Linked DNA regions of Homo sapiens. The protein of the gene in region 1 purifies or fractionates together with the protein of each later gene. This does not show direct contact. Each region holds a gene or a part of one and is shown on either strand. Other genes may lie near its edges. The genes, in order: PEX3 and ABCD3.

Region 1 (15,496 bases):
TTTAATTGCCTATAGTCAGCTATTTGTTCATCTTAGGGTTGCATCATGGAAACGTGTGACCCCTATCTTTTGCTGGAGGAGCATACATAATTGACAACCCCATCTGCCACTGCTCTGGATCCATCACCATGTTTGCACTGCTCCCAGCCAATGACACTGCTTGTATGGGCACAGTAAAGCAGGCCCATTTCTGCAGGTCTCCTCTACCAGAAACTTTGGCTTGCAGACTCTTCATGGTCTCCCAATGCTTTCTTAGAACTGTGCTGTAGTCTGAGACTCTTCTTGCCTAATCTTTCTTCCTTCCTTGTCTTTTTCCCTTCACAAATGTCAGACCTGCACTGTGGCCTAAATGCTTCGCTTGCCTTCTTCTGCCTCCCTTCCCCTTTATCCTTTACAGGCATTTCTACTAGTAGATCTCTTGTACATCTAATCCCATCCTAGCATCTGCTTCCCAGGGGACCCAAACTGACACAAGGGTCCATGTCAAACTGCGATGTATTTTAAGACCCCAGCAGCTACATTTTACTTTTTTTTTTTTTTTTTTTTGAGACAGAGTTTCACTCTTGTTGCCCAGGCTGGAGTGCAATGGTGTGATGTCAGCTCACCGCAACCTCCACCTAACAGGTTCAAGTGATTCTCCTGCCTCAGCCTCCCAAGTAGTTGGGATTACAGGCATGCAACACCACGCCCGGCTAATTTTGTATTTTTAGTGGAGATGGGGTTTCTCCACGTTGGTCAGGCTGGTCTCAAATTCCTAACCTCAGGTGATCCACCAGCCTCGGCCTCCCAAAGTGCTGGGATTACAGGCGTGAGCCACCATGCCTGGCCCATTTTATTATTTTTTGAAAATTCAAATAATAAGCAGAAATGGACCATTCCCTAAAAATTCATTAAAATGTCCTAGGCAGTGGCAATATATTGAATGCTAAATGTAAATTTAAAAAGTTATCATTTACCAAGTATTTATCATACATCAAGCACTGTATAGGCATTATCTCATCACGGCCTCACAAAACATTTATGAAGTGGCTTTTATAATGTTCATTTTACTCTCAGAATTGTCATTATGTATAGTATTTATGATTACTATTCGCTTTGCAGAATGAAGGTATTTTTCTGAGTATTACTACTTCAAATATTAAAAATCATACTCCAATTGTAATTTTGGATGTGCCTCTTACCCTTCTTAATCTCAGCCTCAAGTAAAATGAGGTAAGTAAACTAATAATAAAGGCCTTTAACTCTAAAAAATTTCTAATTTTAAAATTAAATAAGGAGAATGTACCTTTATAAATTGTTTCTAAATTAATTGTTCTTGAAAGAATGTTAGAGAAATGAGTAAGCTTTAAACAATAGAAAAGAAAAACAGGCTTTGCATGGATTTGAGAACTAATTCTTCAGTTATGCCAGTTAGGACACACTGTTCTCTTCAAATATGGGCAGGTTGATTTTGTGATGGCATTCTCCCAGGACTATGTTTCTAGCTCTGGAGGTTAAATTATTGCCATTAATTAACATTGCCTGAGTGTATACTATTGTGGACGACTCACAGGTCTATAGTTGCCTACTGTAAATTTAATAAACTTAATGACTCTTTCCTATGGCCCACAGGCCCGATGGGATCAAGCCTACTTCTGCAGCCTTGTTTCCTATCACTGCCATTGTTCATTCTGCTCTAGCTACATGGCCTTTTTGCTGTGTCCTGAGAGTACCAAGCTTGTTCCCGCCTCAGGCATTTCACATGGCTCCCTCCATTGTAACATTTGGTTTCTGCTCAAATGTTACCTCAAAGAAACCTGACTCTACTGATCCCCTGTCTTAAAGAACGTTCCAGCCCTCACATGGCTTTATGTTCCATATGGCAGCCATCACTGCCTAAAGTTACTTATTTGTTGTTTATCATCTTTTCCTCTCCCTAGAATATAAACTCCAAAGGTCAGGGGCTTTTTGTTGTTGTTGTTCACTTCCTGCTTCCCCAGGCCTGGATACAAGTATTTGCTAAATGAATAAATAAAATGAATGAACTGATTTTTAAAATTCACATTAAAATGATGTAATTCAGTTAAATCATTCAAACACTTGCTAGATTTACCATCTTTTCTTTGCCTTTTCCTCTAAATTTGATCCCGGTGATATGCAAATTAATACAACCGTCAAACAACTTTACACATGTATAAATATTTCTCTGTCTTACCTGTCATATTGCAAGTCCTCTGGTTACTTTCAAAATGATATTGTCGTCGTGCTTGGGCAATGTATTCTGCAGCCTCCCTTTCCTGTATTTCTCTGATTTTCTTCTGTCCATATTTCCCCAGAATATATACTCCTACAATCATTAAAAAAGTACTATATTCATTAGAGTACCAAAAATTCTACACAGTATTTTTAACCTACTTTATGCAATTATAAGTTTTATATTAGTGGATAGCTAAAATTACATTTTTAAAACCTAAATAAAGAATTTTGTAAGATTGGCCCAAAGAAAAGGAAATTAGCATTTTTACAGCCAATGACAGAGGAAATGATGGGCACATAAGGACCAGGTTTGAGGAAGGGAAAGGAATTAAATCTAAAAAGTCTGGCAGTGCCTTTACTAGTAGACTAGAGATATTCTACATGTCCAGCAATGGAGAATTGTTTAAATAAATGATAGTCTAGCCATACAACGAAATCTTATGTAGTTATTAAAAACCACATTGCTAAATAATGACTCAAGGAAATATCCATGTTATACTGTTAGGTGATAAAATAAGATCCCAGAAATGTTACTTTTTTTAATGGAAACAGATACAAAAAATAGGTGAGTTTTAATTTCTAAAATATAACAAACAATGATCATTGCTGAATGGTGGGATAACAGGTCATTTTGTCCTCTATATTTTCTTCAATGAACACAAAATGCTTTTTAAAACTATAAGATAAAAATTTTAAAAGGAACAATGAAAGAAAGGTAGTTAGTCAGGCAGAAGTCTATTTATCCATCCATGTGTTAGAAAAATCTCTTTGAGATAAGGAGAGAAAATACAACTCTCTCATCTAAAAATTAGTAACTTAACTGGAAAAAAAAGAGGGAAGAGGGTACAGAAACTCCTAAATTCTAACACCACAGGATAAGAATATAGGTGGTGTCATGTGGCCTGTGATTTAACAGATTTCAGCATAGGCAGTATGATATATATGTGTACATTTTAGTCTATATCTGAGGGGCAGTCAGTTTTCCTAGCTGGGAATGTGAACATTCCAGAGTGGTTAGTTAGCCACACTTGATCAAAAGCCACATTCCAAAGCTTAAGCTCTTCAACTAGCTTTTATCACTGATTTAGCACCAAATATTTTTGATTAGCATAATGATTATCAGGAATGGATTTTCATAGATTAATGGTTTTCAAGATACTGGACTAGCTAAAACATTTTAGTAATATTCATATGAACTAGAATATACAAATCAAGCAAGTCCTTCACCTTTGCCTGGGATCCTTAGCCGCTAGTTCAAAGGATTCTTAGTCAACTGAGTTAACCAGGTAGCCAACCAAATCCTACAGCTAGAATATTGTTGCATTTTCTTCAGGTAAATCTTTTATAAGCAGTTCTGCGGTAGCATGAAACAAGGGCAGAACACTGGGACTTCAATAAGCTTACAGAACAGGTTGTGTTACTTTTAATCTCTGTTTGCCAGTAGATGTTTTTAAGTGTGCCAGAACTTGGTTTCATTATAACCTGAGAGCAAGGCTGTAAGGAATTAACTAATGCTCACCTACCTCCCACTGTCTGTGACCCCCAGTATCTACTAAACATAACCTAAGAATTGTGCATGACCTAAGTAATTAGATTTGGTCTGTCACAGGTAGAAAGTGGGTAGCCCTCTAGCAACTGCAAAACAAATACATATCCTGAATTATTTTCACTAATACAGGTGCTATAGGTGAACTGATAAGATATTACATATTCTTAAAAATAGTAGTTCAGTAAAAGGGTATGTGCTAAAAACAATTAGAACTACAGTATGATTGCTGTTGCTATGTTTATATGCAATTAATGTATTATAACCAAGCTTAAAGAAGAAATGAGAGTTCATATAAGTGGCTACATGGCTACCTTTCCTGTACTCCATTCTAAAGAAACTGATGATAGTGCTACAATACCAACAAAGGAAACTGACTTACATTTCACAAAGTTACTCTATGACAGGCAATTCTGACATAATAGATCTGAAGGAATTGTTTGTATCTTATTTGCACAACAGCTTACTGAAAGTTACATGTAAAATGATTATTTCTCAAATTATACTGTAAAATCAACACTAAGATGACACTTTTTGCACAGCTAAGAATTTTTTTCTTTAACAATAGTAAATTTGATTGGTGTGTTTCTCTGGGGAGAAGGTCCACTGCTTTAATCAGAGTCTCAACAAATCTGATGATTTTTTTTAGGAACTGCTATTTAACACATTTCAGCATAGGCAGTATGATATAAGTGTGTACATTTGGTCTATATCTGAGGGGAAGTCAGTTTTCCTGAGTGCGAAATTTTCCTGAACGTGAAATCAGAATGTGAACATTACAGAGTAGTTAGTTAGCCACACTTTGATATTCTAACTAAACTAAAAAAGAAAATGAATTGCCATGGGAGCCCCAACACCTCAGAATGTGACCTTATTTGGAAATAGAATCTTTACAGTGGTAATCAAGTTAAAATGAGGTCATTAGGGTGGGTCCTAATTCAATAAGACTTGTCCTTATAAAAGGAAACTTGGACATCGACAATTGCAGAGGGAAGACAAAGCAAAAACAGAGGAGATGCCTATCTATGAGCCATGGTGAGAGGGTTGGAATAGATCTTTCCCTTACACTCTGCAGAAGGAACCAATCCTGATCTTAGACTTCTAAATTTCAGGATTGTAAGATAATACATTTCTGCTGCTTAAGCCGCCCATTTTGTGGTACTTGGAAATCAGGCTAAAATCACACAATCCATTATTTTTCTTGATTTTAGCACTGAACTAAGTTCTTATACAAGGTCTAATTCATCCAGGCTCATAAATTCTGATTTTGTCAGATTTGTTCCCTTAGAAAAATAAGAATGAGGACAGGTAATTCATTAGCTAAAACATGGAGCTCATGACTATCTATATACTCGACTGGCAGCCTAGCCTGGAAAACAGGAGATATTGACGGCTCTGGTATCAAGTAGTTATGTGACTTTTGAGAAAGTCCCTTCCTCCCTCTGTGTCTAAATTTCTTCATCCTCAATATGAAAGACTGGGATTATATGAGCTTTAATGTTTCTTTTGTAGCTATGACTTTATGTATTAACAATGAAAATATTTACTAAATACCTTAAAAAATAAATGTCAAATGCTTTGAGTTTTCCATTAATAACATTACTAGAAAATAAGACTTCTAGTCTTTCCACAATTCAGTTGTTTTAAAACCATCTCTTAGTCTTCTCTTTCTGGATGAAAATCCCTACAATGCAACTATTTCACAAGGTTAATAATTTCAAAAAAAGTTTGAAAATAACCTATTGTTCCCAATCCAACAGATCACAAAATCCTACTACAGTATTCTGATTCTATTTCAGACACATTTTCTAAATCTTGCCAATTATCTACAACTTCTTTATCACTGTCACCACTTAGACTCTAAAAATTAATGCTCTTGAACTGGTTCAATAGGTCCCTAACTCTTCACTTTCTGGTCACACACCTGTTTAACCTATCTTATATATGCAAAGTGATTTTCTAAAACATAAATCTCATATCACTCATGTTTTTAGAATCCTTCAACATCTTGCCATCATTTCTTAATGTGGTTTCCCTGTTCCACTTACATTAGAATCACTTGGGACAATTAAAAATGTAGCCTTTAAAGACACTCCTTGAAAATACCCCTAAATGGGCAGGGCGCGGTGGCTCATGCCTGTAATCCCAGCACTTTGGGAGGCCGAGGTGGGCGGATCACGAGGTCAGGAAATCGAGACCATCCTAGCTAACATGGTGAAACCCCGTCTCTACTAAAAATACAAAAAAAAAAAAAAAAAAAAAAAAAAAAATTAGCCGGGCGTGGTGGCGGGCGCCTGCAGTCCCAGCTACTCAAGAGGCTGAGGCAGGAGAATGGCGTGAACCCAGGAGGCGGAGCTTGCCGTGAGCCGAGATCGAGCCACTGCACTCGAGCCTGGGCGACAGAGCAAGACTCCGTCTCAAAAGAAAAGAAAAGAAAAGAAAAGAAAAGAAAAGAAAATACCCCCAAATGTCTTATCTTGCATGATGCTGCATCCCCAGTACATAAACTCTGACTGGGACTCAGAACGCAATAAATATTTGCTGAATTAAGGAATTCTTGAACTGCACTCTAAACCTAAAGAATCAGAATCTGGAATAAAGGATCCTATGTTTTATTAAGCTCCCTAAGTGATTTTTTTATCCATAGTAAACTCTAGCAAGCACCAATACAAAGGATAATGTCCAAATTATGTAGAATGGCTTCATAAGGCCCTTCACAATCTGTACTCTAGCTACTTTTCCAAGTTAATCTTTTGCCACTTCTCATTTGCATAGCCATAGTGAAATACAGTTTCATTCATAAAAAGCAATGTTGCTGAACCTCTTGAATTGCTCTTTTTCCTTCTGTGTCCTTTCTCCTTTGCTAGCTCTACAACTTAAGCAGAAATTCTTCCTTATGGAGCTTTGCCTGACATCTTCACACTTTCTTCTCATCAATGCTCCCACAACACCCTGCTCTATTTTTGTACTATACTATCATACTACTTTTATTTCCATTTCTGTACCATGAGTTCAAAGTCAGGATCTGTCTTATTCCTTTGTATTTCCAGAGTAAAGTACAGTGAGATCAGTCACTTACTCTCATTCAAATGTTTGTTCAATGACAGAATGAATGAATGAATGAATAAAAAATGTGAAGCCAGAGATTACAGGATTTAAGGTATAAATCCAAGTCAATGTTCTGAGGTTTTCAGAAACCAGTAAGTCAATAAATATCAATCTGGTTGCTCTCTGTTCTCCAAAACTTTTTCCAGTGCAATGGTTCTCAAAGTGTGGCATGGGCACCCCTGGGGTCTTTAAGACCATTTCAGGGAGTCTATAAAATCAAAACTGTTTTCGTAATAATACTAAAATGTTATTTGCCTTTTTCATTCTCATTCTCTCATGCGTATACAGTGGAGTAATTGAGAGGTTACATGATGTGTGATACCACAACTGACAGAATATAGAAAGAGATGAGAATCCAGCTTTCTTCAATTAAGCCAAACATTAAAAAGATTTGCAAAATGTAAAACAATGACACTCATTAATTTTTTGAAAATGTTATGTATGTTAATATGTAATAGGTTTATTATTTTAAAATGAATTAATATTTTAAAAAATTTCATTTTAATTTTGAATATCATAACTATTAATAGATATAAAATTTAGAAAGCTTTTGAGGGTCCTTAATTTTTCAGAGTGTAAAGGAGACCTTAGATCAAAAAGTTTGGGAGTCAATTCTCTAGTCTTTTCACAAACTGGTCAAATTATGCCAGGCTCAGTGGCTCATGCCTGTAATTCCAGCACTTTAGGAGGCTGAGGCAGGACGATTGCTTGAGGCCAGGAGTTCAAGACCAGTCTGAGCAATGTAGTGAGACCCCTGTCTCTACAAAATAATTAAAAATTAGCCAAGCATGATGGTGCACACCTGTGGTCCTAGCTACTTGGGAGGCTGAGGTGAGAGGATCGCATGAGTGAGGAAAGTGTGAAGATGTCAGGCAAATCTTCATAAGGAAGCCTTTCTACTTGCCTTACATTGTAAAGCTAGCAAAGGAGAAAACAAGGCTGCAGTGAGCTACGATCACACCATTGTATTCTAGCGTGGGTAACAGAGCAAGATCCTGTCTGAAAAACAAAAAAACAAAAAAACACAAAACCCGAACACACCCAAACCCCCCAAACTGGTCAAATTATACAAACGCGTAAACCAATTAGTTACCCACCCAAAATCTGAGGAAACAGAAATTGTTACTTAAGAAGGCCTGCTACTCAAGGTTTTACTTACTTACTTCCCCCACTATTGAATGCCCAAACTTCTCTGCGCATGCCTGTTGATATACTACCCAGCTTTCAAGCCTGTCAAAATGTGTCTCTTCTTCCATGAAATTCTTCCTGATTTTTCACAACTGCATATGCTACTTGCCAGTGTGATCTGTACAGCATTTTTTCACCTCTCTTGTTTTTCTGTATCTTAATTACATGTATACTTGCTTTTCCTTCCTATCAGACTATAAAGGCCATGAAAGCACAGTGATATAATATGGAAATAGAATGTGCTTTGTGGTCCAACACACCTGGGTTTGAATTCCAGTTCCCCTTCACTAATTCTGAGACCTGAGGCAAGTTTCTTAAATTCTTAGGGTTCTTGCTGCCACATTTTTGAATGGGGATAATAATAATTGTCTTCTTGTCATTCTGCTTAAATAGGAAGAGCTTAGCACAATGCCCAGCGTAAAGTGGGCACCCAATAAATAGTAGCTGTTACTATTAAAAATATATAAATCTTGTATTTCCATTTATATTACCTTCAGCATTACAGGCACTTGATAGGTATTTCTTAAGTTAGACTAATTAAAATCTAACACACTGTAGAACTTTCTCCCTGAAGCAGAAAGAACATGAGACTCAAACAAATGCCAACCACGGTCATCTACTCTTCCTTTCTTTTCAGACTGACTCCTTTTTTGATATAAAACACTAGGATTATTTTCTCTTTCTGGCCGTCTGAACTTTTCTATTTTTTGCATTCCTCTTATTCTGTAACTATAAAGCTCTTGTTAGTTTTTTAAAAAAATTATAAGTTTAAGTATACTCTTTTGCTTCCCCTGTGATTATTTCTAATCTACTACAAAGTTGTTCCATAAGCTGAAGGAGTATTCCTTCTGAGATCGCTAAAGAGATAATTTTCCTTCCTTCAGTAAACGCAAAAATACTTTATTTGTATTTCTTCAATCACACATATATTTTTAGCTTTTATAAATAAAATGGACTCTGTAGTCTTAGGATAATTTAAATATACATTAGATACTAGCGACTGAAGATATCAGAAAATACCTTTTATATATAAAGGATTTCTCGAAGGTGTTCAAAATTTACATATGCTTATTATTGATGTGTGATAGACCTCAGAGACATGCAAAACACCATCCTTGGCTCAGCAACAAGAACTCTGTTTCAAACTTTCAAGCATCACCAAAATCTGAACTATTGATGCTAAAGGTATTAATTGCAAATTGTTTGGGGAGAACAGAATACAATCTAATACGTACTGTTAATTTCAAATTGTTTGGGGAGAACAGAATACAATCTAATACTAAGAGAAAAGCCAACCAAATTCTTTGGGAAACTCTGTTCTTGATTTTAAGTACTTTTGTAAACATAGCATGTAATAAGTGATGAGACTATTTCTCAAAAACTCAAGTTCTAACAAATTTCCTCTTTTATAGTTCCTAGATGTCCTTTTCATATAATTCACAAAACTTTTATTCCCTCCTTCAAATCCCTGAATATTATCACATGAGCATTGTATGAGGGAAAAGCGTCTCAAGATTTTTATCTTATCTGTTTCTAAATCTCCTCTGGGCCTGTGCAACTCAGTTATGTCAGCTAGATTACAATGATCCCAACCTTGAAGATCCTGAGGAAGATTGCACAACATCCCTCAAGCATTTTTCTTACTGCCATAGTTTGTATTCTAAAATGGCAGAAACAGAGCTAAAATATTGATTTGTTTTTCTTTATCTAATCCATATCTTTCAGTCCTTTAGGACAACTGCGCTGTTTTCAAAAATTCAAATCGACTTTAACCACCACCCGAAGTGCAGCCTATAGGTAACTTCCCTAGATTATTATTAAACTCCTGAGAAGGGTGAGAGCCAAAGTATCAAGAGTGCCAAGGAGAAATGCAGAATCTCACAGGAAAGCAGAATTTTTTTTAAAAAGTTCCTGTAAGAGAATGGTGCCTTGAAACAGAAACTTAAACTGTGATGAGTTCTCCAAAGGTCCGTGAGAAAAAAGGATAGGTGAGAAACAGAGTTAAGAGTCGGTGACAGGGCAAAGGGCACAGAGGCATTTCTCAACTGCAGAGATGGGAGAACCCTGGAGGTTGGCCACCTCCCTTTTCATCCCATGGTTGATCGAACTCCCTCTACATATCCCAGACTAGGATCGCCCGGCCTGTCCTTATTTTAGAAGAAGTCACCTCTCCCACCCCCTTCTCCCAATGCCCCCTTTCAAGCACGTTGTCACCCACCTCCAAGGACCGTGCCCAGGAAGATGCATTTCTTTTTGTGGCGTTTCAGAAAATTCCATACAGACCTCAGCATCTTTAGGCCCTAGGGGTGTGGGCTGACTAGGGGTGAGGGACTGCTTCACCAGGAAACTGTTTCTTCGTCACCTGGCCCAGATGACCCAGCAAGAGCGCCGTCGTCCCGTTCTGTGCTCTCCCGAAATCACAAACGTGACTTTCCGCAGAGACTGTCACCGGAGCGGCAAGGGGGCGTGGACTACAGCAAAGCAGCTACGCTTTCTGCCGCTGCCGCCGCGCAGCCGCCGCCGCTCACTGGTCCGACAAGCCCAGGTCCGTTCAGAAATAGCTCCCGAGTGCCTTTTCATTAGACTACCCCCGGAAACGGGGTCCCGGGCCCGCCGCGTTCCGCTGCCCGCGCTCCTCCTCTGCCGCGGGCTCTGTAGCTGAGTGGTGGCTGGGTATGGAGGCGAAGGCGGCACCCAAGCCAGCTGCAAGCGGCGCGTGCTCGGTGTCGGCAGAGGAGACCGAAAAGTGGATGGAGGAGGCGATGCACATGGTGAGGAGCCCGGGAGGTAGATGCTGCGGGGTGGGACCTTTCTCCAGCCCTCAACCCGACCCCGGCATTTGAGCAAACGTTCTTTCTCGTCACCATAATTTTTATGGCAGTCAGATGTTCTGGGTGAACAACTGGCTTTACTGCCTCGAAACTTTCTGTAGCCCATTCTCACAGTGGCTCTGGGCGAAGGAAGGGGAGGAAATACACAAATTATTTGTTTCATTGCGGTGGAGTATGCTGCAGACTTAACATTCTGTCGCCGGCTGGCACGTGCTGCCTCCCTTTCCTTTCTGTGGTCACACACTCTCCAATCTACAAAGTCACATTATTTGAGGTTTTGGCCCTTGGAACATGTCCAGCAGAAGGAAGGAAACTGAGAACGTTTCTGGTAGAGAGCAGTATGGAAACAAGTCCCTGTACAATCGGCGTCTCGCATTCATTCATTATTTCCTCTGCCCTTTTACTTCCTTCCCTCACTCCCTTCAGGACTGCGAAATAAAGGGGGCTTTCAACAGAATGCTGTGTGCTAGCGAGCTTCTTAACTGGGAAAAAAAGTTTGTTTGTAAATATATGTATTTACATTTTAATAACTACATACAGCCACGTGCCACACAATGACCTGTCGGTAAAGGTCGTTATCCTGGAGCATTAAATCTACTCACCTTAGCCCTATTGTCCCATCCAAGTACTAACCAGGCCTGACCCTGCTTAGCTTCCGAGATCGGGGGACATTCAGGGTGGTATGGAGGTAGACAACCCTAGTTTCTATGTAGACTTCTGGGCTAAACACTTTCGCTACCTTTTAGGTTGACCCTGGGCTAGCACATGTAAATACATTTACATACGTTTACAAACAAACTTTTATCCCAGTTAAGAAGCTCGCTAGCACTTTTCAGCTCCATTATAATCTTATAGGACCACATATACAGCGGTGGTGCTATAGGATTATAATGAAGCTGAAAAGTTCCTGTTGCCCAGTGACATGTAGCCCTCCTAACAAGTACTTTTTTTCCTTTAAGACCTTGAAGAAACTTGTATATGCTAAAACCCAAGAAGCAGCTGCCTCCTTAATCCTGTGTAGGAGGACGTAAACTATGGAATCACATCCCTAGGTGTTTATAATACAATTAAGAGACAAAAAATGTCAAAGCCAGAGAGGTCTAGAAATTCTTTGAAAACATCTACATGTTTAAAAAGATACAAAGTAGCATGGCCAGATGCAGTGGCTCATGCCTGTAATCCCAAAACTTTGGAAGGCAGAAGCAAGAGGATCTCTTGATCTCAAAAGTTGAAGAACAGCCTGGGCAACTTAGCCAGACCCCGTCACTACTAAATAAAAATTTAAAAATTAGTAGGGCATGGTGGCATGTGCCTGTAGTCCCAACTACTCAGGAGGCTGAGGAAGGTGGATTGCTTGAGCCTTGGGAGATTGAGGTCGCAGTGAGCCGTGTCTGTGCCACTGTACTCCAACCTGGGAGACAGAGCCAGACCCTGTCTCAAAAAAGAAAAAGATACAAAGTAAAGGAAATACAAAGAAGGAAAATATTTGCGACATATATAAAAGGACAGGTTTAATAACCGTAGCATATAATTTATATAAAATCTAAGTACTTTCCGACGTAAAAGGAAAGATGTATACCCTAATACTGAAAAAGGTCAAAGGCTATGAATATATTTCTTTTTAAAATTTCTTTTTATTTTTAGAAGATTTTTTTTTGGTTTAGACAGGGTCTCTCTGTGTTGCCCGAGCTGGTCTTGAACTCCTGGGCCCGGGCAGTTGTCCCACCTCAGCCTCCCAAAGTGCTGGGATTACAGGTGTGAGTTACCACACCTCACCTGAACATGATATTTCTAAAAGAAGTGACGAGTGAGTAGCCAGCAAATAAATGAATACACAATTTCACTATTAATGAAATTCAAATTAAAATGATACACAATTTTTTACCTGTTAAATTGGCAAAAGTGAAAGCAATTTTAATGCTTGGTGATAATAAGGGTGTGCATGTTTGAGGTGTTTGTTGGTTGGGAGGAGCTGAATTTAGAAAACCCTTTTTTTTTGTATGTAACATGTATATTACAGTTTTTATTTAATATGCTGATAAAGTTAACTCTAGTTAAGCCAAAGTTGAAAGTTTTAAGTTTAATTTACTTTTTTTAAATTATTATACTTTAAGTTCTAGGGTACATGTGCACAATGTGCAGGTTTGTTACATATGTATACATGTGCCATGTTGGTGTGCTGCACCCATTAACTCGTCATTTACATTAGGTATATCTCCTAATGCTATCCCTCCCCTCTCCCCCCAACCCCATGACAGGCCCCGGTGTGTGATGTTCCCCACCCTGTGTCCAAGTGTTCTCATTGTTCAATTCCCATCTATGAGTGAGAACATGCGGTGTTTGGTTTTCTGTCCTTGTGATAGTTTGCTCAGAATGATGGTTAACAGCTTCATCCATGTCCCTACAAATGAAAAGGATGAACTCATCCTTTTTTATGGCTGCATAGTATTCCATGGTGTATATGAGCCACATTTGCTTAATCCAGTCTATAATTGATGGACATTTGGGTTGAGTTCCAAGTCTTTGCTATTGTGAATAGTGCCTCAATAAACATTCTTGTGCATGTGTCTTTATAGCAGCATGATTTATAATCCTTTGGGTATATGCTCAGTAATGGGATGGCTGGGTCAAATGGCATTTCTAGTTTTAGATCCTTGAGGAATCGCCACACTGTCTTCCACAATGGTTGAACTAGTTTACAGTCCCACCAACAGTGTAAAAGCGTAGAACACCCTTTTATTAGGACAATTTGGCTAGGCAGATATAAAAGGCCTTAAAAGTGAGCTTATCCTTTGATCCAGTAATGCCCTTTTTTTTTTTCCCAAAGTGAAAATATTTTAATGTTTTCTTTTTCTGGTTATGTAAATAATTCATGGTCATAAAAAATTCAAACTATAAAAAAGGGTTAACAAATTATGTAAAAATTACCTAAAAGTCCTACTATTAGAGATAATACTATTAGTATTTTGGGAGCATCCTTCCATATCTCTCTGTCCATATGTAAACAGCCATATGTACTTTTGCATAAATGGAATTATATGTTCTCTTTTTGATTATCAGCAGTTTTTTTTGGTAGTCTTAATATATTAGTCACTCCTCCCTACCTCATGGTATTTCTGTTGCTATGGAGTGACTACCTAAAATGGGACAAAGGATGTATGTGCTTTGAAATTATATAGATATTCCTGTATTGCCTTCTAAAACCATAATGCCTAATATCGTAGCCACTAACCACATGTGTCTATTTAAGTTTAAATTAATTAAGGTGAAATAAAATAAAATCTAGCTCCTCAGTTGTATTAGCCACATTTCAAGTAGTCAGCACCCACATATAACCACTGGCTACCGTATTGGACAGTACAGATCAAAGGACATTTCCATCACTACAAAAGGATCTGTTGGATAGCATATAAGGTTATCAACTTTACTGCTTTTTAATAAAACCATTATTTTTCATGGCAGGTTTCTTTCTGAGAGCTAAGCATAGCATCATCATAGGTTATCATTTTAATCATCATAACATGTTCAGCATAACATTCTAAAGATAGGCTTGGAAAAAAGAAGTATGACTAAGTAATAGTGTTGCACTCTTGGTGTGTTCCAGATACTATGCTATGCACAGTGTTTTCATGTGGGCCATGTTATAAGCCCCACAGAAGCCCTATCAGGTGAGTATTATTATGGTCCTCATTTTCAGATGGGATATTGAAGCTGAGAAAGTTCAGTAACTTCCCCAAAGTTAGAGAGCTGGGAAGGATGGGGCTGTGATTTGAGGCCTGTCATCTGCTGTTAAATACTGGCCTGGCCTGCCTCTCGGTGTTAGGTAGCTCACTGCTTGCCAACATATCCTCTGCTCTCTTTCTTCCTTTTCAGTTTCTTTACCTGAATACTGTGTATCTACTGTGTAATTTAATTGAACATTTAGATTTTTTTCTTCTGTGAATTGCCGAGGCATATACTTTCCCCAATTTTGTAATAGTTTGATTTAAAAAATCGCACTGTAGGAGCTCTTTGTATTTTACAGCTGTTTCTAGGAATAAATCACAAAGAAGCAATATAAATATTTATATAGAGAAGTTCTTTACTTGTTTATAATAGTGAAGAATTTGAATCACTTAAATGTCAAATAATAGGAGACTAGTTGGTTGAATCAGATATGTTCATAAGGAGAAATACTGTACAACCTTTACAAAATCATGTGATGAAAAAATATTACCCAATATAGGGAAAGGTTAACAATACATTTCTAAATGAAAAGGGCAGACTGCTGAACTGTATATACAGTGTAAATCTATTTGACTTTTTAAAAACTGTAAATATGTGTATGCAGGGCATAGGAAAAAACAGAAAAAACCCCCGTTGCTTCAGAATAACAGGGATTATATTTTGGGGTATTGGGATTCTTAGTGGGTTTTTTTTTTTTGATACATGAGGTTTTTTTTTTTTAATCGCTAAGTTCTCCACCTTGAACACATCTTACTTTATAATTAGGAAAAAAGAAAGATTGACTAACTATCTATACATATGTGTATAGAAAAAATGTTGCAAGTTTTCTAGAAAAAAGTCAATTGTATTTTTTTATAGTGTG
Region 2 (15,496 bases), on another chromosome or scaffold:
TCTACATACTTCCCAGAATAATATCTAGACAGATAAATATGTCTGTACTGGGGAGTTTATAATGGAAAATGGTATAAAATCTCTTATTCCAAAGAAGTTTTTATTATTTGGTTACAAATGTAACCCAAAAGGCAAATGAATCATAAAGTAGGAAAGATTTATTTGAGGGGCCAAGTCTGTTTTATTATGCCTCTTTCCAAGAGAAAGAAATCTTTATTTTCAAGTAAGCCAGATGAGTAGAAAATAATTAGAGGCTGCAAAGAACTGAAGAACATTTGTTGATTATAGAAAGGCTATGTTAAGAAAAACAATAAAAAGACATAATGAATGTGAGAAACCCAGGTCTACTTTAGAATACTTTAAGTCAGAAAGAGATTAGAATTCATAACAGTGAACCAAAAAGAAGTCAGAGAAACAGTTCCCAGGGGAGGAGAAAACAAGAATCACAGGATAAACACCAGGAAGTAAGGAACATGGTTATGAAGTAAAACACTCCAACAAGTAAGGACATAAGTGGGGACTCAAGACTTTCCAAATGAAACCCAAAAAAGAGAAAGAATTAAAGACATTTTTTTCCCTTTGTCACTTTTCAACATAATGAGTATCATAATAAACTCATTAATTTAAACATTTTGATGTATTTTAATACAGGGTAGTTATTGTTCTTTTTTTAATTTTATTATTATTATACTTTAAGTTTTAGGGTACATGTGCACAATGTGCAGGTTAGTTACATATGTATACATGTGACATGCTGGTGTGCTGCACCCATTAACTTGTCATTTAGCATTAGGTATATCTCCTAATGCTATCCCTCCCCCAGGACCCCACCCCACAACAGTCCCCAGAGTGTGATGTTCCCCTTCCTGTGTCCATGTGTTCTCATTGTTCAATTCCCACCTATGAGTGAGAATATGCGGTGTTTGGTTTTTTGTCCTTGCGATAGTTTACTGAGAATGATGATTTCCAATTTCATCCATGTCCCTACAAAGGACATGAACTCATCATTTTTTTATGGCTGCATAGTATTCCATGGTGTATATGTGCCACATTTTCTTTATCCAGTCTATCATTGTTGGACATTTGGGTTGGTTCCAAGTCTTTGCTATTGTGAATAGTGCCGCAATAAACATACGTGTGCATGTGTCTTTATAGCAGCATGATTTATAGTCCTTTGGGTATATACCCAGTAATGGGATGGCTGGGTCAAATGGTATTTCTAGTTCTAGATCCCTGAGGAATCCCCACACTGACTTCCACAATGGTTGAACTAGTTTACAGTCCCACCAACAGTGTAAAAGTGTTCCTATTTCTCCACATCCTCTCCAGCACCTGTTGTTTCCTGACTTTTTAATGATTGCCATTCTAACTGGTGTGAGATGTTATCTCACTGTGGTTTTGATTTGCATTTCTCTGATGGCCAGTGATGGTGAGCATTGTTTCATGTGTTTTTTGGCTGCATAAATGTCTTCTTTTGAGAAGTGTCTGTTCATGTCCTTCGCCCACTTTTTGATGGGGTTGTTTTTTTCTTGTAAATTTGTTTGAGTTCATTGTAGATTCTGGATATTAGCCCTTTGTCAGATGAGTAGGTTGCGAAAATTTTCTCCCATTTTGTAGGCTGCCTGTTCACTCTGATGGTAGTTTCTTTTGCTGTGCAGAAGCTCTTTAGTTTAATTAGATCCCATTTGTCAATTTTGGCTTTTGTTGCCATTGCTTTTGGTGTTTTAGACATGAAGTCCTTGCCCATGCCTATGTCCTGAATGGTAATGCCTAGGTTTTCTTCTAGGACATTTTTAAGACTATAAAAGTGAAATTATAGAAACGACAGAAGTCTATTCAATACAAACATAAGGGCTTTAAAAGAAAAGGCTTTGAACTAAAAAGAAAGTGACAGCTTTAGTGTGGTAACATCAAGACAAAATATTATTATGGACCATAATCATGATCCATCTATTCTAAGTATCCCAACCCCCTTTCTCATTGTGCTTCAGTCATGTGTGCCCCTATATTATTGGTATATTTTATTTCTGCATAAAGACAGAAGTGAGGGTAAGTAGGAGAAAGGGACAAGAGGCATTCTTCAACGAAGTCTCACGTCCTTTTTATCCTTGGACAGTGGCAATAAAGGGGCTACTGGAAATCAAGCCTGGCTACCTACTTTGCCAAAGGAACATTCAAGTGACTGAAGTACCTGGAGCTATGTGAGAAAACACTTCTGTGATATGTGGAGCCAGTCAATATTTACCAACTACATTTACATTTTCTGTACTTCTTGTATTTCCTGGCTTTGGAATAAATATGATAACGATAGAATACTCATTGTTGAATAAGTTCAAAGTACTTTGCATAACTAACAATTTTCATTTTTATAATTCATTGAGAAGAAAGTAGACATGTGCTTAATATAAATTACTAAGAGCAGAAAACTGAAGACTTACTTAAGACTGTAACAAATTAAAAACAAGTCCAATAATTATATTCTTTATTTTATAAACTATCAGACAATATTCCTTCAAAGAAAGCAGTAGGAAAAAAATCCCCACATGAAACACAAACTACAGATGGCCATGCACATTAGCATGTGGAGAGGAATTCTAGAGCTGTGCTGTCCAATACCATAGCCACTACTCACATGTGGCTATTTAATTTTAAATCATATTAATTAAATTAAATTTTAAATTCAGTTTTGCAGCTGTACTAGTCACATTTCACATGCTCAATATCTACACATGGTTATTTTACTGGACAGTGAAAGTATAGAGCATTTCCATCATTGCAGAAAGTTCTACGGGAAAGTGTTGTTCTAGAGGAATGGTGTCTAGAATGGGGAACATAGCCTATGTGATAGGAATTTGTTACTAATTATGAAGATTTCTGGATCTGAACCATTCATAAAGCCACAACATAGAGAAAACCTAAATAGTAACCCTTAAATCTGCGAGTCTTACAAATCGTACAAAAACATTCATCTTTTGTCTTTTCTTTTTAATTTGGTCTGCCATATCCCATTTCATTAGCAGAGTATATTGAATCAACATCAGTTTTCACTTGGCATGGGATTTTACTTGTTTTAGGTGAGTGTCTATTTGTAGCGCTACTGTGCGGCTCTTCCCGTTTTCATCAGTAATAAAACAGTCTGTATTTTGTTTTTATAGGTACAAATCATCCTGTACAGTCACAACAATACCAGCCACACCATAAGTTTCTTTTTAATGTAAAGAGACTAAAATTATATTTGTGTGTTTAAATACTCATTTTACACTGGAGACTCCAATTTACTATATTTTCTATGACTTTCTTGACATAAACTTCATTTGCAAAAAGTTTTTTGGTAGTAGTATTTGAAATTTTGAAGTCCTGTCAATTAAGAAAAATAGATTTCTAAGCGTTTCAAAGACTTACTTTTTAAAGCAATTCTGTGGATTCAGAGACTAAGTCGAGCCTTAAAGTTACTTTAAATATTCAGGTAATCTTTTTCAGTTCACATTTTAAAGATGATTTAAGCTTTTATATGATCATTTAAAAACTTACTTCAAAATTAAGGTCTCGGATCAAAACATCTCCATTTGGCGTTGCTAAAGGAACATGATCAAACCTATAGAGGAAATTTTTAAAAAGAGAATTACTTTAAAGTATATAAGGAACTAATACAACTCAATACCAAAAATACAAATAACCTGATTAAAAAATGGGCAAAGAGCTTAAACACTTCTTAAAAGAAGAAATTCAGATGGCCAACAGGCATACGAAAAGGTGCTCAACATCTCAGTCATCAGGAAAATGCAAATCAAAACCACAATGAGACATCACCTCTCACCTGTTAGGATGACTATTATCAAAGAGACAAACGGTAAGTGTTGGCAAAGATGTGGAGAAAGGAAACCTTGTACATTGTTGGTGGGACTACAAATAGTACAGCTATTATGGAAAACAATATGGATGTTCCTCAAAAAATTAAAATTAGGACTACCGTATGATCTAGCAATCCCACTTCTGGGAACATTTCCAAAGGAAATAAAATCAGTATCTCAAAGAGAATCTTCCTCCCATGTTCACTCCAGCATTATTTACAATAGTCCATATATGGAAACTGCCTAAATGTCTTTCAACTGATGAGAGGATAAAGAAAATATAGTGTGTACAGTGTGTATATATTCACATACACACAAAATACACACAATAGAATATTACCCCACTTTTAAAAAAGAAGGAAACTGGGCCATTTTCAACATAGATGGATCTGGAGGACATTATGCTAAGCAAAATAAGCAAGACACAAAAAGAGAAACACTATGTGATCTTACTTGTATGTGGAATCTAAAATAGTCAAACTCATAGAAGTAGAGAGTAGGACGGTGGTTGCCAGGGGGTTAGAGAGAGAGGAAATGGGGGTAATATTGGTCAAATGGCACAACATTTCAGTGATGCCAGAAGAATAAATTCTGTAGATCCACTGTACTGGGACAATAGTAGAAAATACTATATTGTATACCTGAAATTTGCTAAGACACATCTAAATTAAATTCTCACTAAACACACACAAAAATGGTTAACTATGTAGAGGCGATAGGTAAATTAATTAGCCAAAACGTAATCATTTCACAACATACACAGATATCAAAGCATCAAGTTGCATACTTTAAATATTAATATACACAATTTTTAGGTCAATGATACCTCTAAGCTGTTTTTTAAAAAAGCAGAAATAATTTTAAACACTAAGCAATTGTAAGCTGAAAAAGAAAGACTACTATGAAGTTTAACAAACATTTATGGTGCTAAAAGACCTTTTTCTGTACGTACTTTATAATGTTATCTGCAATAATGATTTCTCCAGCACCAGGTATCAAGGGAATGACTTGTACTCCTTCAATACCTTAAATGGAAAATAGGTATTAAAGCATCATATTATGTCAGCAAACACTTAAAATTGTGACCTTAAACTGTGACACTCATATTTACCCTTTTCCTGTTGTGAGACCATTGTGCGCTCATATTTGCCATGATTTAAATCCTTCAGTACTTGCATTAATTCTGTAATCCGAGCAGTAAAACTAAAATTTTAGAAAAGGAAACCATAATCAAAACTCCAGACTATTGTCACATCTTTTATTTTATACAAACTGAAGTTCCTAAAATTATAATTTAGTATAAATGAAGTAACCTAACAGTCTCATCAACATAAAGTATTAATGATAACATGTGTGCTTTATTATGTTTCAGTAGGAGAGCAGGAATATAGGGATGAAGGAAGAGGTTTCCATAGGATCCCCAACTCAACAGATACTTCATTAATAGCCAAGTCAAGGCAGTTATTTGCTGAGAATTTTCAGGAGGTTTCTCTTGGATACTACAAAAGGACCACTACTAGTATATTCCTTAGACCCAGGAAGTATGGACTCTGATCTCTTGCTGAAGTGACCTATAAAGCCATGTATAAAGCTGGTCTTTCTATCCAAGGAAGGCATTTATTAAATGTATGCCGAATGCATGCTGCCTTCCTGCAAACGGAAGAATCTGAAAGATTCCCTCTTTCTTACTCTGAAGAGGGGAAAGATGATGAGTTCTTATTATTAGATAGAAATCACTGTGGCAATAGAGAAAAATCAAAACTAACGACAAGAGGTTGGAGATAACAAAAATGACCATGATCGCCAAAGAGAAAGTATTCTGCATCGAAGAAGAAAACAGGATTTTTCTCTGAATAAAAAGCAGAAACCTCCTAAAGCAAACTTTGGGAGGTGATGAATGTTTATGGTCTTGATGGTTTCACACGTGTATAACTTATTCCCATATTCATCAAATTGTATACACTAAATATGAACAGTTTCTTATATGTCAATCATACCTCAACAAAGTGGAAAAAAGAGAAAGAAAGGGGGGCAGGGAGACGAAGGGAGGGAGTGAAAGAGAAAGACACACACACCCACACAGAAAGAGAGCGAGAGAGAGAGAGAGAGTGAAAGGAAACACCCTAAAGGAACAGAAGCACCTTATATACCATGAACTGTAAAGCCATAAGAAAAGTTAACAAGTAGGAAGAATGTTAGTATTCTCATGAAAGAGACTCTACTCATAGTAGTTAACAACTTCTATATTGCATGAAGACCATAACTGCCACAGGAGCTAAGAAGGAGGAAAAAGAGAAATATGAAGATGGATCACAGGCCTAGGAAAGATATTCAGTCATCAAACTTCTTCAGGTGACCTAAAATTTATGGTGTTTTTTACACCATACCATGCCCTTTATATTGGAGATTGAAATACTGAAATCTTAATATTTAATTTCATTCTACTGTCTAAAGATAATTTTACTACTAGATAATATGACTACATTCACAAGCACGCCTACAGATACAAGATAACATCTCATTTTTTTTCCCATTAAAGTCAACTTCATTTCTATTCATCTGTTTTGCTAGGTTGCCGGTATCTAAGATCCAAGAAAAAAAGGTATGGTAGAGGACAAGAAAATTTAAATGAGAAAATTCTATTCATAAACATAGTTTTCTGTGAATTAAGACTGCCATGATTCAACATTTCCCAACTTAGCAAATACGTGTCCATGGAGCAAACAACTTGACAGCCTCTAATCTACTGTACTGCGCAAACCAGCTGTCCTCAAGAAACATGAAAAGTTCACCATCAGAAAAATCTTCCTTAATTTTCTATCAAAACCACCTTCCTGGGCTAGGAAATGTTGACCCCTTATCTTAATCTCAACTGATACAATCATTAAGGATAATATATTTTTAAAAATTATTTTCTGCAACAGCTCATTATTACTAATCTTACCCGGCCAATCTAGTCATTTCACGCCCAGCCAAAACTATTCGACCCAGAGCTTGAGACATTCGCAAAAGCATTCTTCCACTTTGGTAGTAATCCTTAAATAGAAATAAATATTAGTTTTTACTTATAGTTCTATGACTAAAAATTTGGCTTTATTTTTACTGTTACATTTTCATTGTATTATCATCAGTTTACCTCTAGAAGTTCCGAATGTGTACTCTTGAGATGTCGAGGATGAGACAAATCTAAGAAAGGGCGACTGACAACTAGGTAACCAACAACAGTGGCAAGGTCTGAAACCAAACAGGTAAGATTTAAAACAGTAACAGTATTTCACCTTTTCCACAAATCTCATCTCTTTCAAAATATACTTACATTTGGCAATAATACTATCAATGAAGCCCATTGAAAACCGAAACAAAATGAAATTATGTAGGTGTTCCACCTGGCAGAAAACAAAAACAAAAAACCATCTTTTTCTCTGTATAAAAAACTGAATCTACTATAAGGATAAAACAAACTGTATAGTTCATTTATTCAACAAATATTTACTGAGTGCCCGTGATTTCTGTTTATATTCTGTTTATATTGTACATCACACCACCGAGGACAATGCTCTTCACAGAGCGGGTGCCAAACAAACACTTCATGAAACCATTTTTATGCAAACAGCATGGAAATTACATAAACAATTTTAACAATGCTGTTTCTCTTGCATGCAATAGCACAATGCTATTGTAGTCACCATGCTTTTGGATACACATATCCCAAAAGAGGACAACAACGAAAGCAAAAAGAACAGAGATTAACTAGTTTGAGTGAAACACTAGCTGTCCGGATTGGCACTGAATGCTTTGCTTTCAGTGGAGACACATGGTCTGTGCTTTATCTAAGAATTGTATTACACCCAATCTGAACTGAGTGCTAATGTAAATCAGTGCCACACAGCCTCAGTTTTAGCTTTAACATGAGCACGCATTGTCTTAAAACTACAAGTCTAAAACTGCTTTTTTATTCTGGAGTTGTAGTGTTCTCAAACTGTCCATCTACCAGATTATTCAAGGTCCTGCATGATCTGGCACTGAGCTCTATTTTTAAGGTCATATGCTTCTACTTTGCTCCTCCTCACCAAGCTCCAGAAATAACGGTTTCTCAAACATGTACCTTCTTAAGGATTTCCTCTTGCTCTTCTCACTGCCAGGAATACATTCTTCTAAGGTATCTATATTTTGTGACTCCTTCACTTTCATGTGGATTTCTGACTAAATGTCACCTCCTCAAGAAAGATCTTGGCCATTCCAGCTAAAGTAGCTGGGCAATAGCCCCCTTCATATCTATCCCTTTATCCTGCTTCATTTTTGGCCACCGAATTCATTACTACCTGAAATTATACAGAACATCTAGTTGTTTATTTATTGTCTGCTCCACTAAAATGTGGCTTCCTGAGTACAGGGTAGCTTGTTAACAACTTGGTATCTTCTGCAACTAGACAATCTCTGGAACATTTATTCAATGACTACCATGTGTCAGACACTGTGCTCAAGCTGGAGATACAATGAATAGAACAGAGAAGGTCCCTGAATTTATGGAGTTTACATTCTAATGAAAGAGCATAACTAGTAAACAAGATAATTAGAGACTGTAATACAGTCATCCCTCGGTATCCAAAGGGGATGGGATTGGTTCCAGGACCTTCTGGATACCAAAATCCATGGATGCTCAAGTCCCTGATGAAAAATGGCATAGTATTTGCATATACCTGAGTACGACATCCCATACACTTTATTTACTTTTTGAGACAGAGTCTCACTCTGTCGCCAAGGCTGGAGTGCAGTGGTGCCATCTTGGCTCAATGCAACCTCCGCCTCCTGGGTTCCAGTGATTCTCCTGCCTCAGCCTCCCGAGTAGCTGGGATTATAGGCCCCCGCCACAACAACCGGCTAATTTTTGTATTTTTAGTAGAGATGGGGTTTTGCCATGTTGGTCAGGCTGGTCTCGAACTCCTGACCTCAACTGATCTGCCCGCCTCAGCCTCCCAAAGTGCTGGGATTACAGGGGTGAGCCACCGCAACTGGCTCATCCCAAACACTTTAAGTCATCTCTAAATTACTTATAAAACTTAATACAATGTAAATAGCTATTACACTAATGTCTGTATTGTTCAGAGAATAATGACAAGAAAAAAATATGTGTACATAAGTACAGACACAATTTCTTTTTCTGAATATTTTCAATCTGTGTGGTTGAATCCATGGATTTGGAACCCACAGATGCAGAGGGTTGACTGCAAATATATATATACTTTTAAGGAAAGATGATGATTAAAACAAGAAGTAACTGTTGGAGGCCATTTCAAATAGGCTGATCAGAGAAGACAAAGCTTCAATAAGGTGTTAACATTTGGGCTGAAAATCTAAAGGATGAGAATAAGCAAGCCGTGTGGAGAGCAAACTGGTGAACTGCAGGCCCCTGAAAAATTACCTTAAATGCATTCTACCAGTGAGCACTCTAAAAGTTCTGCCATGTTAAATACCGACGAGGCAAAAATCCAATTTCTGAAATAATTTAAAATGACAATTTCTTTAACCTCTTTAACTCATCTAAAATATACATTTAATTTCACAAACTTCAGACTTCCACTAAAATGTAAGCTCCTTAAAGGCAAGATTTTATCCATCATGTCCACCACCATCATCCTTAGCACCTGGAGTGAGCACAGGCAACTAGACGGCATTCAATATCTTTTGAATAAATAATGGAATAAAAGTACTTGAATTCAAATTTTCCAAGTGGCAATTAAATAAAAACTGAAGTAAAGCTTTCACAAGAAACAATGCTTATATTCTTTAAAACAAAAAGCCAGTAAACTCTGACCCATAGTCCAAATCTAGCCTGCTACTTGTTTTTTTAAGTAAAGTTTTATTAGAACATAGCCACACCCACTCATTCATGTATTATATATAGCTACTCTTGAGTAGCGGAGCTGAATAGTTGCAAGACACTGTGTGGTATGAAAAGCCTAAAATATATACATACTATCTTGCCCTTTATGGAAAAAGTTTGCTGACTCTTGCTTTACATAATAATCTTTATTGTATTTTCATGAATGCTTCAGGAACAAATTCTTTCTGTGGGAATCACTAAATAAGGCTCCTAAGCAACCTCTGTAAAAATACACTTAATTTTTTTTTTATGTTTTTGATTATACTTTAAGTTCTAGGGTACATGTGCACAACGTGCAGGTTTGTTACATATGCATGCATTTGCCATGTTGGTGTGCTGCACTCATTAAGTCGTCATTTACATTAGGTATATCTCCTAATGCTATCCCTCCCCCAGGCCCCCACCCCACAACAGGCCCCGGTGTGTGGTGTTCCCCACCCTGGGTCCAGGTGTTCTCATTGTTCAATTCCCACCTATGAGTGAGAACATGCAGTGTTTGGTTTTCCGTCCTTGCAACAGTTTGCTCAGAATGATGGTTGCCAGCTGCATCCATGTCCCCACAAAGGACATGAACTCATAATTTTTATGGCTGCATAGTATTCCATGGTGTATATGTGCCACATTTTCTTTGTCCAGTCTATCACTGATGGACATTCGGGTTGGTTCCAAGTCTTTGCTATTGTGAATAGTGCCACAATAAACGTATGTGTGCATGTGTCTTTATAGCAGCATGATTATAATCCTTTGGGTATATACCCAGTAATGGGATGGTTGGGTCAAATGGTGTTTCTAGTTCTAGATCCCTGAGGAATTGCCACACTGTCTTCCACAATGGTTGAACTAGTTTACAGTCCCACCAACAGTGTAAAAGTGTTCCTATTTCTCCACATCCTCTCCAGCACGTTGTTTCCTGACTTTTCAATGATCGCCATTCTAACTGGTGTGAGATAGTGTCTCACTGTGGTTTTGATTTGCATTTCTCTGATGGCCAGCGATGATGAGCATTTTTTCACGTGTCTGTTGGCTGCATAAATGTCTTCTTTTCAGAAGTGTCTGTTCATATCCTTTGCCCACTTTTTGATGGGGTTGTTTTTTTCTTGTAAATTTGTTTAAGTTCTTTGTAGATTCTGGATATTAGCCCTTTGTCAGATGGGTAGATTGCAAAAAATTTCTCCCATTCTGTAGGTTGCCTGTTCACTCTGATGGTAGTTTCTTTTGCTGTGCAGAAGCTCTTTAGTTTAATTAGATCCCATTTGTCAATTTTGGCTTTTGTTGCCATTGCTTTTGGTGTTTTAGACATGAAGTCCTTGCCCATGCCTATGTCCTGAATGGTATTGCCTAGGTTTTCTTCTAGGGTTTTTATGGTTTTAGGTCTGACATTTAAGTCTTTAATCCATCTTGAATTAATTTTTATATAAGGTGTAAGGAAGGGATCCAGTTTCAGCTTTCTACATATGGCTAGCCAGTTTTCCCAGCACCATTTATTAAACAGGGAATCCTTTCCTCATTTCTTGTTTTTGTCAGGTTTGTCAAAGATCAGATGGTACACTTAATATTATTTTAATAAATCTATGCAATTTTATAAATGGGCACTTGAATATATTGATATGATAGTTTTTAATCTCATATTTTTTATTAAAAATGCAGTATAAAATCCTTTATAGCTATTTTTCAAAAAATCTTTAAGATATGTATACATACGTGTGTGTTTGTGTGTGTGTGTATGTGTGTCGGCCATAGGCAAAACAAACAAACAAAAAAAACCCTTTCCATAAACACATGAACCTCAAGTGTGTTATCTTACCAGTTTTCGGAAGACTGAGTGGACTGTCTGCTTTTCTCTTTTATTCCCATTGTAAAAGGCAATTTCTTCACTATTAAAGAAAATAATTTAGCAATTAATTTTAATGTTACCTATGCTTGGAAAATAATTGAAATACAGTATATGATGGCTGAATGTTTGTATTTAAATGGACATTTTGTGACTAAGAGCTTATCTGGTGCATCTCAAGCCACAGTCTATACCTGAGATTCTGTTCCTAGCTCAGCTGATCGGAGCACAGGAATACACTCCTGACTGAATCATATGCTGGACTGCAACCTATGGCATAGGTATCCTGGCTGCAAAAGACATACTGCACGAATTCTCAGAAATTCGAAATTAGAGAAAGAAGTTGCTGTGATGTACAGAAAGGCAGGGCTGGGACCAACATTGCAGACTTCAAGTTAAAGTACAGGCCCAAACAAGAAAGAGATGAAAAAGCAACAGCTAGAAAAAGATGGATAGTGATGACTTGACATACAGCCTTTTAAAGACAGAAAAGCAGGCTAAGTCCCACCGGCTTCAAAGTGCCAGCTCCCAGGAGGAAACCCTGGAACCCCATCATATCCTCACAACAATTCCACGTTTCCTGAGCAGATGTGCATGGGTCCACAAGGGCCACAGGGATCACGACTAGAAAAAAAAGGTATTTTATAGATGAAGAGAAGTTCAGTGTAGTTAAGTAAATTTGTAAAGGTTGCAGAGCCAGCAGGTCAGGGAGCTGAAATCATAACTCCTATCTGACCCTAACATTTATAGTCTTTCTATTACACAGGAATGATGTAAGCTTTCCCAGCAAAGTACCTCTTATGGCAGAGAAAAATATTTATAGAGAAGTCTAGAAGGCAAGGTTGAAATATTTCTTTAAAGTCTCTTTTTTCCCCTAAACAATTTATGTTTTATATTTCTATTTTGAAATGGACCTGCGTTTTTCATAAAAACAAGGTACCACCTACCTCAACCACTTCAAGTAAAATTAACTTCCCATAAGATATGACACATTTGTCACGCGTTTCATGGTTTCCTTGACACAATGACAGAGACTCAAGAGTATAAGAAGCCTACAATTCTATACCTCTAATTACTTTTTAAAAAAACTTCCTTCTATCTCCTCTCCACACCTAAGCCTATGGAAGAAGATGAGGTGAGGATTCTCCTCCTGAACTGAGTCATTTTAGCCTTAATGAAAAATCTGAAAGGATAAAACATCCTGGAATATTGATGGCTGCCCATCCAACATCTATTCTCTTCATTGTTCTTCTTCCTAAAATAATCCCAACTTTTGTAAAGTTATCTATTATTTTCCATGTACCCTAATGCTTTAGGAATGCCTCAACCCCATTTAGGGTCCCAACTGGTCTAAGCCAATCACTTTGCTGTGATTGCTTTAGGCATGGTCAAGTAACCATTCCAGCCAATAAGATATGAGGGAAAGTCAGTTGTGGGACTCTTGGGAAAGGTTTCTTTGCTCTCATAAAGACACACCAGGCGAGATGGCCCCTTTTTGTTTCTGGAGCTTTCTGCAGGGGAGAGGAGCTAGTGAAATCTGTAACTGCTATCGCCATCTTGTGGTCACAAGAAGAATTAGCCCGAGGAATGGGGCAGCATACAAAGCAGGGCAGAGCCAAGAGAACACCAGAGAGCCAGAGCCCTGATAATGCCATACCTGGAACTGCCCTGTCTTAAGGGTTCTCACGTGAAGCAGTGAGTGTTCTTATTACTGGAGCCATGAGTCATGCTTTCTGCTTCTTTCACTAAAAGGCATCTTTCATTTACTTGGCAAATCACCTCTTAACTCTATTCCGCTGCCTCCCTAGAGCAAAAAACCCTATTTAAAACTTGTACTATTTTAGCAATCCAAGGAAATAAAGGAAGAGGGAACTGTCATTTGCAAATGCCTATAGAGTAGAATATTAAATACATATTAGAACCCTCAAAATGACTTAACATTAACAGATCAATATATGAGAACATTTATTGAGCAGTTGCTCCATATAAAAAACTGAGCTGGAAGCTTTATATGTATTATCAAATTTAATCCTCATTGCAACCCTATATTATCTACCTATTATAAACAAAAGTGAAACTATGAATAATTCGCTAAAATCAAATACATGCAACTGATAAGTGGAAGAGGTAGATTTTGAAGCTAGTATGGCTGGCTCCAAAGTCCACACTTTTTCTTCCTATCTTACATTTAAAAAACTCTAGAAAATAGGTAGAGGCACATGCAGTGACAGTGAATCATTGAGCATTATGAACAGTCAAAATAAAAATATTTGTGGAAAAATTGAGACAAAATTGTCTTGGAACAGGTATTGTAAGTTGAAATTTGAATTGTAAACTGATTATGTCTGAAGTAAAATTAACAGAAAATTCATCAACAGAAGGTATGAACAGGTGAATCAGGAATACTACATGGTTAGTAAGAAAAAGAGTTCAAAATATTCATGATTACTACTTTATAAAACTAGTCTCTTTCATAATGTATATTTTCAACACAATATGCACATTATTACAGTAACAGTGTCACTAGACTTTTTGGAGTCAATTTAAATGACATCAATATCCATAGAAATTAATTTTTAGCAAGGCTTTAATGCATTTGTCTTTACCTGTTTGTGATGAGCCGAGAATTAACATATCTATATTCTCCTTCATACTTTTGCTCAGTTATTGTCATCTTACCAATGGGTCTTCGAAGTCGAGTTAGGAATAGCCCAGAAACAACCAAGTAGGCCATCATGCTCGCTGGGCCCTATTATTATTGGGAGAGAAAGATACACAAAGTTCTGGGATATAATAATAAATTCACTTAGATACAAACATGTACAATTTTTATAATTAACCTCAATGACTGAAAGAAATTGCCCTACTGGGTAATTTTTTCCCTTTGTTTTTTTTCTGAAAAAGTACACAGTAGCCTCTACACTTTTACTACTCATGGGCTTTTCCTCTTACCACTGTAGCTTATCCCTCAGCTCTCCTACATTTTGCTCACCTAAAAACTCCTAATTGCAGTTCACAGTTTTTCTATGTTATCTAACACTCTCCTGTTGGAACTCTTCTTGATAATCTCTTAAGATTCCACAATAATTCTTAGACCTCTTTTTCTTGCCTTCTTTTTTAATGTTAATATTCCCTCAAACTCCTTCCTTAGTTCTCTTCTCATCTCAAATCTATACCTCTAGTCCTATCACTCTTATGAACCCAAGAAATAAGTACTACACATCTTTACCTTAATACTGTGCAGATGCCTCAAGTTCAGCTCCCCCTGAACGAGCTCTGTCTTTCCCTGCGTGTACATCTTGCTTCCAGCTGCTGTACTATGTATTAATAACTTTGTACGTGACCTCATCACCCATTGACCATCCCAAGAGAAAAAGAAAGGTATGCTTGAAGCATACCTTTCCAAGTTCATCATAGGCACTTCCCTCATTCCCCTATATACCCTATACTCTGCCATACTAAAATATATAAATGTTTCCTGAACAGTTTCCATTCAGTGAGGTTGTTCTTATGTTTGGCAAGCCTGACATAATCTAATGGATGTTTACTTACCTCCCCAAAGTAGCTCAGATATCACCTCCAGTTCTTCTTGGCACTAAATACTTTCTTGAAACTTCTATTACTAAACTTTATCATGCTGCATCATAATTGTTTGACTATCTACCTGTTTTACCACATTGTAATTCCTCTTCAGCAGGAATTGTGTCTTACTTATCTTTTTATTCCTACTATCTAGCACAATATATGTGCTAGTAAGTATTCAAGATTAAAAAAAAAAAAGTAAATCTGATCAATTCAATGCATATCAACAACTACTACAAATGTGGACCAAAAAGATAACTAAAACAGTTTCTGCCTTTAAGAAATGCAGAATCAGATAACAAGTAGACATGGAGACATATTTAAGTATCACAAAAATGTAGTTAAGTA

Evidence for each region.
Region 2: the proteins of PEX3 (region 1) and ABCD3 purify together in Homo sapiens (affinity purification with mass spectrometry; 2 studies listed by BioGRID and IntAct, with this or other methods). This does not show direct contact.

Annotation. Positions count from the first base shown.
Region 1 is NC_000006.12:143,445,915-143,461,410, reverse strand, and holds the start of PEX3 (peroxisomal biogenesis factor 3), read right to left. Parts: upstream 10,607-15,496; 5' UTR 10,369-10,606; coding exon 10,296-10,368; intron 2,327-10,295; coding exon 2,195-2,326; intron 1-2,194. Other genes in the region: ADAT2 (tRNA-specific adenosine deaminase 2), read left to right, coding at 10,753-10,848, 14,513-14,576. UniProt on the Homo sapiens protein: Involved in peroxisome biosynthesis and integrity. Assembles membrane vesicles before the matrix proteins are translocated. As a docking factor for PEX19, is necessary for the import of peroxisomal membrane proteins in the peroxisomes.
Region 2 is NC_000001.11:94,479,283-94,494,778, reverse strand, and holds part of ABCD3 (ATP-binding cassette sub-family D member 3), read right to left. Parts: intron 14,316-15,496; coding exon 14,173-14,315; intron 13,348-14,172; exon of another isoform or gene 13,224-13,347; intron 13,205-13,223; exon of another isoform or gene 11,761-13,204; intron 11,610-11,760; coding exon 11,540-11,609; intron 7,238-11,539; coding exon 7,168-7,237; intron 7,086-7,167; coding exon 6,988-7,085; intron 6,888-6,987; coding exon 6,796-6,887; intron 5,055-6,795; coding exon 4,963-5,054; intron 4,877-4,962; coding exon 4,804-4,876; intron 3,596-4,803; coding exon 3,532-3,595; intron 1-3,531. UniProt on the Homo sapiens protein: Broad substrate specificity ATP-dependent transporter of the ATP-binding cassette (ABC) family that catalyzes the transport of long-chain fatty acids (LCFA)-CoA, dicarboxylic acids-CoA, long-branched-chain fatty acids-CoA and bile acids from the cytosol to the peroxisome lumen for beta-oxydation.